Regions from separate parts of the Homo sapiens genome. Here region 1 is linked to region 2. The links come from fine-mapping of genetic effects on gene expression. A gene starts in region 2. The other region holds a variant in brackets. All regions are shown on one strand. Distances are between the middles of the regions. Region 1 overlaps LOC101927166 (a long non-coding RNA gene). Region 2 holds the start of CBX1 (chromobox 1).

The links. PIP is the estimated chance that this variant, and not a neighbour inherited with it, causes the effect.
Region 1: its variant is the best candidate, but not a certain one, in a credible set for the expression of CBX1 in lung (TOPMed, PIP 0.83).

Annotation. Positions count from the first base shown.
Region 1 is chr17:48,446,854-48,452,300 of GRCh38, reverse strand. The region is part of intron 2 of LOC101927166 (a long non-coding RNA gene); the gene reads right to left. Among named protein-coding and RNA genes, the nearest start is that of SKAP1, 19 kb to the right of the region's middle. The variant T/G (reference allele first, on the strand shown) is at 3,360.
Region 2 is chr17:48,098,494-48,103,493 of GRCh38, reverse strand. It overlaps CBX1 (chromobox 1), which reads left to right and starts at 2,016. Exons shown (of 5, transcript NM_001127228.2): 1 at 2,016-2,226. RefSeq lists enhancers at 1,598-1,857, 1,684-2,283 and a silencer at 2,228-2,277.

The DNA of each region.
Region 1 (5,447 bases), 350 kb before region 2:
GTGTAGGATGCTTTAAATAAGATAGAAGGCCAGGCATGGTGGCTCGCGCCTGTAATTCCAGCACTTTGGGAGGCTGAGGTGGGCGGATCATGAGATCAGGAGTTCAAGACCAGCCTGGCCAACATGAAGAAACCCCGTCTCTAATAAAAATACAAAAAATTAGCTGGGTGTGGTGGCACACACCTGTAATCCCAGCTACTGGGGAGGCCGAGGCAGGAGAATCTCTTGAACCCAGGAGGTGGAGGTTGCAGTGAACCGAGATCATGCCACTGCACTCCAGCCTGAGTGACAGAGCAAGACTCCGCCTCAAACAAACAAACAAAAAGAAAAGAAAAGAAAAGAAAATTTCCTGTATATTAGCTCAAGGAAATAAATTATTTTGTCCCAATTTTGGCTCTGGCTTCGTGGCCTTGAACAGGTCACCTATCTCTCTGGGTTTCAGTTTCCTCATCTGTGTGGTGAAAGATGTATTAGATTACTCCTGCTGTCTCCAACATCCTAGCCCCATACCAATCAAACACAGGGCTAGCTCATTTCTCTTTAGGAGCATCTGTCATTCAGGTGACCCTAACTTGGCTTGAAGATCAGTGGGGAACCCCAGACTCCTGTTGTGGCAGATCAAATTTCATTTCTTTGGTCAACTCATTTGGTCACAGTAGAGATCACATGTACTTGCAGTGTTAGTATTTATGTGTTTTTGCCATTTTAGTTCCATGACTCTTCTACACAAGTGGGTGGGTTCATGTGGTTTTACGGTGCCTAGGCCAGGGTCCTTAAAACTCTCCTGCCAATGATTTCCCACCCCCGACCCATCCTGAATGCTGGCATAATGCATTCACCATTAGAAATGGCTCTATTAGGTCAAGGAATTGTTTCTAGTTAAAGTGAAAATACATTATGAAAAGAAGTAATACATTAATATATTAACCTCAGCTAACTTCATTAGCACTTATTACACATAAGGTTAGCTAACTGGTTATCATTTTGGAGGGCAGAGAGCAGATCTGGAGGAGAAAGGGAGCCCAGGCTTGACAAAGTTTGACTGGGAGAAAGGGTTCCCGAGAAAAGCAAGATTAGGTGAGGCGCCACAATGGGACACACTGGGAACCTTGGAGACAGCATGAATGTATGAATGTACTTCTTTATTTATTTATTTATTTGAGCCCAGACTAGAGTGCAGTGGTGTAATCTTGGCTCACCGCAACCTCCGCCTCCCAGGTTCAAGCAATTCTCCTGCCTCAGCCTTCGCAGTAGCTGGGATTACAGGCGCACTCCACCACACCCAGAACATTTTTGTATTTTTAGTAGAGACGGGGTTTTGCCATATTGGCCAGGCTTGTCTCGAACTCTTGACCTCAGGTGATCCATGTGCCTAAGCCTCCCAAAGTGCTGGGATTACAGGTGAGAGCCACCGTGCCGAGTTGAATGTACTTCTTTCCTTCATTCAAACAAATAAACATTTATCAAGCCTCCATTATATGCTAGGCACTCTGTCAGGTGTTGTGGATACAGAGATGAGTAAAAATTAGTTGTGATTCCTAAGGAGATATGATCTAGTTGGGGAGAGGGATGAAATGTAAAGTAGGCAAGAAAGTACTACATGCACACACACAGATGTATATGTGTACACATATACATCTTCAGTGCGTGCGCAAGATAAGGAGTGGCCAATTCTTGGGAGGCATCAGAACAAATTTCATGGAGTCAGTATTTCTTTCCTTCCTCATATGAAGAAGGAGCCGTGACGGGGAGGGAGGATGAACAAGCTGCAGCTACCTCATTATTTTTATCTAGGGCCAGCCTTGATAAGGGAAGTGAAAACTCTTCTTTGTGATTGGATAATGAGACAAATAAATTTATAGAGGAATTGGAGGCAGAGTCCCATTTGAATCCTATCCTTTGACCTTTGGAGGGCAGGCTGTCTACCCAGCATCTGAGAGTCACCAGTAGCAACATGGGGTACAGCTTTTGGTGGCTGAGAGCATGGGCTTTGCTGTCAGACTCTCTGGGTTTGAGCCCTGGCTCTTTGACCTTGGGCAAAGTACTTAACATCCATGGCTCCGGTTTTCTTGTTTGTAAAATGGGGAAGAAAATAACACCTGTTTCATGGAGTTGGGAGAATTAAATGTAATAATGCATAGAAAACACTGTAGTAATTATCATGGATTTTTCTGAGATGTGTTCTATGAAACAAAAATGACCTAATTCAGTAGTAGAGCCGAGTGATTCTAGCTCTAGTTCAGTATCTTTTACTTCACTGGCAAAACTGACAGCTAGTCCGTGGTGTTCCAGGGATCTTGCAAATCTTTTTTATAACCCCTTTGTCTGCCTTGTATTCCCATCCAGTTCTTTTGTAATTATGATCATGCCTCACATTCAGAAAATTCAGGACAGGAAAATCTGAGTGTGTTAAATTATACATCTAGGGTTTGTTTTTTGTTTTTTTGTTTTTACTTTAAGTTTTGGGATACACGTGCCGAACGTGCTGGTTTGTTACATAGGCATACATGTGCCATGGTGGTTTGCTGCACCTAAGTTTTAAGCCCCGTGTGTATTAGGTATTTGTCCTAATGCTCTCCCTCCCATTGCCCGCCACCCCCCAACAGGCCCTGGTTTATGATGTTTCCCTCCCTGTGTCCATGTGTTCTCATCGTTCAACTCCCACTTATGAGTGAGAACATGCAGTGTTTGGTTTTCTATTCCTGTATTAGTTTGCTGAGAATGATGGCTTCCAGCTTCATCCATGTCCCTGAAAAGGACATGAACTATTCTTTTTTAAGGCTGCATAGTATTCCATGGTGTATATGTGCCACATTTTCTTTATCCAGTCTATCATTGATGGGCATTTGGATTGGTTCCAAGTCTTTGCTTTTGTAAATAGTGCTGCAATAAACATACGTGTGCATGTGTCTTTATATTAGAATGATTTATAATCCTTTGGGTATATACTCAGTAATGGGATTGCTGGGTCAAATGGTATTTCTGTTTCTAGATCCTTGAGGAATCACCACACTGTCTTCCACAATGGTTGAACTAATTTACACTCCCACCAACAGTGTAAAAGCATTCCTATTTCTCCACAGCCTCGTCAGCCTCACCAGCATCTGTTTTTCCTGACTTTTGAATAATCGCCATTCTGACTGGTGTGGGATGGTATCTCATTTTGGTTTTGATTTGTGTTTCTGTAATGACCAGTGTACATCTAGGGCTTTATATTCGTATTACAAAATAATTATTTGTTTTAAAGGAGAATTAATCTTTATGAAGTTAATTTCCTATGTACCTGCAAAGCTGAATGCAAAATATAAAAACTTATTTTTACATACATCTTAGAATCATAGAATTGTGAAACCTTAAAG[T/G]TGGAACAGGCCTTAGAAATCATCTAGGCTAGTGGTTTTCAAATTTTTATTATAGCTGCCCTATTTCTGTAAAAGTGTTATATTTCTTAGATGCATGATGCAGATGAAAGCAGAGTTACTCTGATTAAACCAGGATGGGGAGGTGGAGTACTCACTCCTTTGCCCTCTTGCCCTATCCTGGAAGCAGCTTCTGAACACCTCTGAGTAAGCCAAAGGCTTCTAGGAACATAAATTTGAGTTCCACTGATCCCACTTAACAATTTCGTTTTGTACATTCCTTTTGTAAAACGTGGTTCTACTGTTTTTCTATTAATTCAACTGTCTTATTTTCTTTTTTAAATTATAGGTTCCTTGAGGGCAGGAACCTTTTTAATAAAAAAATTCTGGGCTGGATGTGATGGCTCACACCTGTAATCTCAACACTTTGGGAGGCCGAGGTGGGAGGACTGCTTGAGCCTAGGAGTTCGAGACTAGCCTGAACAACATAGGGAGAACCTGTCTCTACAAAATAAAAATAAAAATAAATTAGCCAGGTGTGGTGGTGCACTGTATAGACTCAGCTACTCAGGAGGCTTAGGCAGGAGGATTGCATGAGCCTGGGAGGTCAAGGCTGCAGTGAACTGTGTTTGTACCACTGCACTCCAGCCTGGGTGACAGAGTGAGACTCTGTCTCAAGAAAAAAGAAAAAATTCTTAGTGTACTTTCTCTGCATGTGAGTATTTAAGGCCTTGTCAAAACCTTCCTGTTAGTGTCAGAAATGACCAGAGACTATAATTATATATAAACATCCTTTATTGAATCTTTGAAAAGTGATTTCATAGAACCATAGAATTTTCAGCTTGAAGGGACCCTGGAGAACATGAACTTTAACATTCTCATTTTCTGGATGTGGAAACTGGGGCCCAGAAAAGTGGTTTGGTTGATGTCATGTAGTGACTTAATGGTAGAGCTGGGACAAGAGTCCTGGATGCCTGATTCTTGGTTTAGGGCTGTTTCAACTTATAACTTACACTGCTAGGATATTATAGATTTGTATTCCTGAGAATACACTTCAACTACCTACAAATCGTCTAACTTTTCTCAATAGTTAGACTAGAGAACTATCTTTATAATCCATGGCTTATGTTTTATTATGTGTTTGTTTTGTTTTGTTTTGTTTGTTTGTTTTGAGACTGGCTCTCACTGTCACCCAGGCTGGAGTGCAGTGAGTGGCATGATCACAGCTCACTGCAACCTTGAACTCCCAGGTTCAAGTGATCCTCCTACCTCAGCCTCCCAAGTAGCTGGGACTACAAGCATGTGCCACCATGCCTGGCTAGTGTTTTTTAGTCTTTGTAAAGATGAGGTCTCATTATGTTGCCCAGGTTGGTCTTGAACTCTGGAGCTCAAGCAGTCCTCTCGCCTCTCAAAGTGCTGGGATTACAGGCATGAGCCACTGTGCCTGGCTCTGTGTAATTTTTTTAGTAATAAAAATTAAGAAGTACTGACATGAAGAGATGTCCATGATATAGTAAATAGAAATGCAACTATTAGATATGTCCCTTTTTGTTTAAAGCTTTGGATATTTCCCTAAGGTTTATCTGGGTGTATTTTTCTATGGTCACTCTTGACTCAAGTATCTAGTGAACACCCAAGGATTTAATGATATAATAACCACATCTGTTAATTTTTATAAGTTGGCTTTCATGCCCTTATAACTCTTATAACAACCATAAAGTTATAAATTTACTTTCTTATTCTTTTTAACTATTACAGTGTTGCATAGTATCTATGCATCATAATTTTATAATTTATTTACTCAATTCCTTATTGACAACATTTAGGTTATCTCTGAATTTCAAAAAGTTGCAGTGAAATTCCTCACACATACATCGTTTTGCATAGCTGTGAGCATTTTTGTGGGATAGATTCCTAGAAGTGAAATTGCCGGATCAAATTTTGAGATACATTCATCCTCATATTTGTCTTTTGTTGCTGAAACTAAAATGAATAAACTCCAACATCTGTACCTAACTTTGTAGTCTATTGAGGTTTTTACACACAGAAAGGTATTTGAAGCTTTAAACATCTGTGTGGGTTTATGGATGG
Region 2 (5,000 bases):
AGCTCTTAAAGCTGGCAGGGACCCAAAGAGTGAGCAGCAGCAAGATTTGTTGTGAAGAGCGAAAGAACGCGAAAGAACAAGGCTTCCATAGCGTGGAAACCGACCTGAGCAGGTTGCTGCTGCGGGCTAACAGGAATGGGTGGGGGGCAGGGGGCCAGCTTTTACACCCTTGTTTGTCCCTGCCCATTTGCTATTTCTGTCCTATCAGAGTGCCCTTTTTTCAATCCTCCCTGTGATTGGCTACTTTTAGATTCCTGCATTTTACAGAGCGCTGATTGGTGCATTTTGCAGAGTGCTGATTGGTGCATTTTACAATCCTCTTGCTAGCTACAGAGGGCTGATTGGTGTGTTTTTACAGAGTGCTGATTGGTATATTTTACAATCCCCTTGCTAGGTATAGAGCGCTGATTGGTGCATTTCACAATCCTCTTGTAAGACAGAAAAGTTCTCCAAGTCCCCACTCGACCCAGGAAGTCCAGCTGGCTTCACCTCTCATCTTCTCTGTGCTTTCTTGAAGCCCTTTTAACTAAACTCTATTATGATATTGCTGGGCTGGGTTTTTCTTACATGACAGTTCTCCAGAGCCGTGAACAGTGCCTGCATCAGCAAAACTGTCTTATAAATGCAAACTCCTGCCCTGAACAGTGCCTGCATCAGCAAAACTGTCTTATAAATGCAAACTCTTGCCTTTTGGGGTAGAGTGCAATAGAGTTTCCCTCTTCCTCCTGATTAGAAGGATACTTTAAAATAAAAAAATAAAACTTTAGTTATATTGTGGCTTAAAAACATGTTTTTTTCCTAATTGTGTGTTTCCTTGGGATGATTGGGTGAAAGGTGCTGACGGAGATTAATGACACTGAAAAAGGTGAGCACAACTTACAATGAAAAAGAGGACATTTTTGTGGCGCAGCCAGTGAAAAGGGGGAAATTCAGGAAGCTATGAGAGGCCTATGGGGGGACCTAACCTACTCTAGGGAATCAGGGAAGACCTCAAAGGGGAAGTAATCTTAACACTGAACAGTATTTTTTTTTTTAGACGAAGTTTCGCTCTTGTTGCCCAGGCTGGAGTGCAATGGCGCGATCTCGGCTCACTGTAACCTCCACCTCCTGGGTTCAAGCGATTCTCCTCCCTCAGCCTCCCGAGTAGCTGGCACTACAGGCGCCCGCCACGACGCCCAGCTAATTTTTGTATTTTAGTAGAGATGGGGTTTCACCATGTTGGCCAGGCTGGTCTTGAAACCCTGACCTCAAGTGATCCACCCACCTCCGCCTCCCCAAGTGTTGGGATTATAGGCTTGAGCCACCGTGCCGGCGTGAGTAGGAATTTTACAGAGATTTGAGGAGGCAGAGATTGAGGACTAAGAAATCATTGGAAATTTGAGGCAGCGGCGATATGATAAAGTTCTGGTGAAGAATCTAAGATTCAAAAATTTTGAGGATGTGAATTACAGAACTGTCCAGAAGTGGTTGATTTTTTGGGGGCCAAGCATCAGGGGGCTCGCTTATAAAAATCATATGTTCTAATTTTTTTTTTTTTTTTTTTTTGAGATGGAGTCTCGCTCCATCGCCCAGGCTGGATCGCAGTGGCTGGATCTCGGCTCACTGCAAGCTCCGCCTCCCAAGTTCAAGCAATTCTTGTCTCAGCCTCCTGAGTAGCTGGGACTACAGGCACCTGCCACCACGCTCGGCTAATTTTTGCATTTTTAGTAGAGACAGGGTTTCACCTTGTTGGTAAGACTGGTCTCGAACCCCTGACCTCAGGTGATCCACCCGCCTCGGCCTCCCAAAGTGCTGGGATGACAGGCGTGAGCGACTGCCCCTGGCCCATATGTTCTAATATTCTAGGTTACAACGCTCTACGCTGCAATCTCTCCACCGTTACAGTTTAAAAACTATAAGTCCCTACCACCCTCGCCTACTGTGCGTGCGCGGCGCGCGGCGCTTCGGGCCTTGTAGTCTTGGACAGACCCCCGAGGCCCATGGTGCCGTGCGGCGGGTCGTTGCGCCTGCGCGGTGCGAGCGGCGGGCAGCGCAGACTGCGAGGCTCTTTTGTTCGGCTGAGGGGAGGGCCGTTGGCCGGGGCCTGCGGTACGCCGCTTCAGTGAGGGACGCCACTGCGGCCACCCGGCTTGCTGCCTTCCTGGGCGCCACTCCCCCAGGCGACCCGACGCGACGCGCCAGCAGCGCAGCACCGATTCCTCTCGGGCTCTTGGGCGCTGCTCTGAGGTGAGGAGCCCGCTGGAGGCGGGAGAGCTGGGGGAGGGGGCGCGGCGGCGGCGGCGGCGGGAGCCCTGCGTGAGGGAACGCGCTTTCGAGGCGGAGGTTAGGAGCGGGGAGCGCGCCCGGGTCCAGCGTCCTGCTTCTCCGCTTCCCGCGCTGAGCTCTTCGCCTGTCGCTGAGGCGTCGGTGCCAGCTGCGTGAAGGATGGAGAGGGCGGGGCGCGAATCCTGAGCCAGAGACTGAGTGCTTGGGGGTGGGCCGAGCACTTGGGGGCCGCTCTTCGGGGCCCGGGTGGTCTGGAACAATGTTGCTTGGCTGGGCGGCTGCGGGATAGGGCGGAAGGGGACAGGCTTGAGGCTTGGATAGGCGTGAGGAGGCGCATACGACCGCACAACCCGAGGTTTGTAACTGTATTCGGAAGACGCCGGGTCCGGCTGGGACTGCCAGAGGAACCTGGCTTTGCAGGACTACGGAGGAGTAACGTCGAGTGAATTGGAAGAGGGCCCAGGGCCGCACAAGGTGTGCTGATTGGAGGAGGAGATGTGTGGAATAAATTGGGAAAGGGGACACGGAGGGGGAGGGGCAGGCGTTTGCTGGGCCTGACTCTGGAAGGGGAGGAGCTGTTAGGATAAGTAGGGCGGAGATCCCGAGAATATTTCTATAAGGTATGTAAGAAAAAAGGGGAAAGCAGGCCGCCCTTGCATCCTGATGGGTCCTTACAGTGGGGAGGCTGTAAGAATAATGTGCGAAGAAAGGATGGAATACGCTTTTTTCAGTTTTCCAGGTTTCCTACTACCTTCACTCCATGATTCCTTTGGGGAGTTAAAAAAGTCCAAGTGCAGTTCTTGCTTTGATTCAAAATTAGTTCCGTACGTTTTTGTGTGGGATCGTAACTGGTCTCACAAAGGTGATGAAATTGTAAAAATATGTAGATGAGTTAATAGTTGAGGAACGGCGTGAGGTAGTGAGAGATTGTGAGATCGTGTGAGGTGCGAGAAATTGGGAGACATAGGAAAATTATGTGAGATTGTGAGGTAATATTTGTTTCGTGGGCCCTTCTGTTTTTAGCCAGCTTTTCCTTGTTGGAAAATTTGAATAGAGTGAGCTATATTTTACCTCTTTTTTTTTTTTTTTTTGAGAAGAGTCTTCCTCTGTTGCCCAGGCTGGAGTGCAGTGGTGCGATCTTGGCTCACTGCAACCTCCACCTCCCGGATTCATGCGATTCTCTTGCCTCAGCCTCCCGACTAGCTGGGATTACAGGCACACGCCACCACGCCCGGCTAATTTTTGTATTTTTAGTAGAGACGGGGTTTCACCGTACTGGTCACGCTGGTCTCGAACTCCTGACCTCGTGATCCTCCCGCGTCGGCCTCCCAAAGTGCTGGGATTATAGGCGTGAGCCACTGCGCCTGGCCATATTTTACCTCTTTTTCAAAGTTTCAAATGAGGGTTTTTCATAAATTGGTGTTACATTTAGACGTGTTGGTTTAACGCAATTGAGGTGGAATTTACAAAAAGTTCAGCTATAATCAGTTATATACTAGAACCCCTAGCCCAGGGTAAAGTAGCCTCCTCAATTGTGTTAAGAGTCACATCAGCAGTTTGGAAAGATTGTGAAAGGTCCAAGGCTTTGGAATAGATTCAGGAATACAATGGGGAAATTAATGCCGGTGTTCCTCCCTAGGTGCCTTATAGACTTTTATATGAAAGTGGTGTGATTGAAAAGCACTTGTATTGAAACCGGTGGCACCTTAATGAAGCTTCACGGGAGTGGAGGACCTGAAGTCGTTTACGGTTTTCCCTGTGGTGATATTTTTCTTCAATGGCTGCTGTATCCTAAATTGTTTCTCATTAAAAAAATAAATAGTAGGGTCGGGCGCAGTGGCTCAAGCCTGTCATCCCAGCACTTTGGGAGTCTGAGGTGGGCGGATCATGAGGTCAAGAGATCGAGACCATCCTGGCCAACCAACATGGTGAAACCCTGTCTCTACTAAAAATACAAAATTAGCTGGGCCTAGTGGCGCATGCCTGTAGTCCCAGCTACTCGGGAGGCTGAGGCAGGAGAATCGCTTGAACCCGGGAGGCAGAGGTTGCAGTGAGCCGAGATCTGCACCACTGCACTCCAGCCCGGGCAACAGAGCGAGACTCTGTCTCAAAAAAAAGAAAAGATAGATGATAGGTAGATAGATGGTGTGTGAAATAAATAGTTTTGAATGTAAATAGAAGCCTAGTGGTAAGTAAGTTACCCTGGTCTTCTGCATTTCTGAATACAGGATACCTATAACTTACAAACTATACCTCTAAAGAAAGATAGCACTCATTCTTGTGCCCATTTTAAGGACTAGGAAAATGTTTCTCTTTGTTGTTCACACCATTTGAAAATAATTCATTAAATTTTGGCATCCTCTAGTGGTTTATCTAGCAAAACCTCCCTTTTTTAAAAAAAAATCCTATCTGCAGTGGTGTAAGAGATTTTGCATTAGATTTGGTAGATTTTCACTTCATAGGTTCTTTCCACGAAGAGTTTCTGGTGTAGAAGGCTAATTGCTAGTTTATGGGCTCCCATAAAATGGAGCCATACTGGCCCCATCTCTACTAAAAATACAAAATTAGCTGGGCGTGGTGGTGCACACCTGTAATCCCAGCTACTTGGGAGGCTGAGGCAGGAGAATCGTTTGAACCCGGGAGGCAGAGGTTGCCATGAGCCGAGATCGCGCTATTGCACTCCAGCCTGGGCAACAAGAGCGAAACTCTGTCTCAAAAAAAGAAAAATGAAAAAA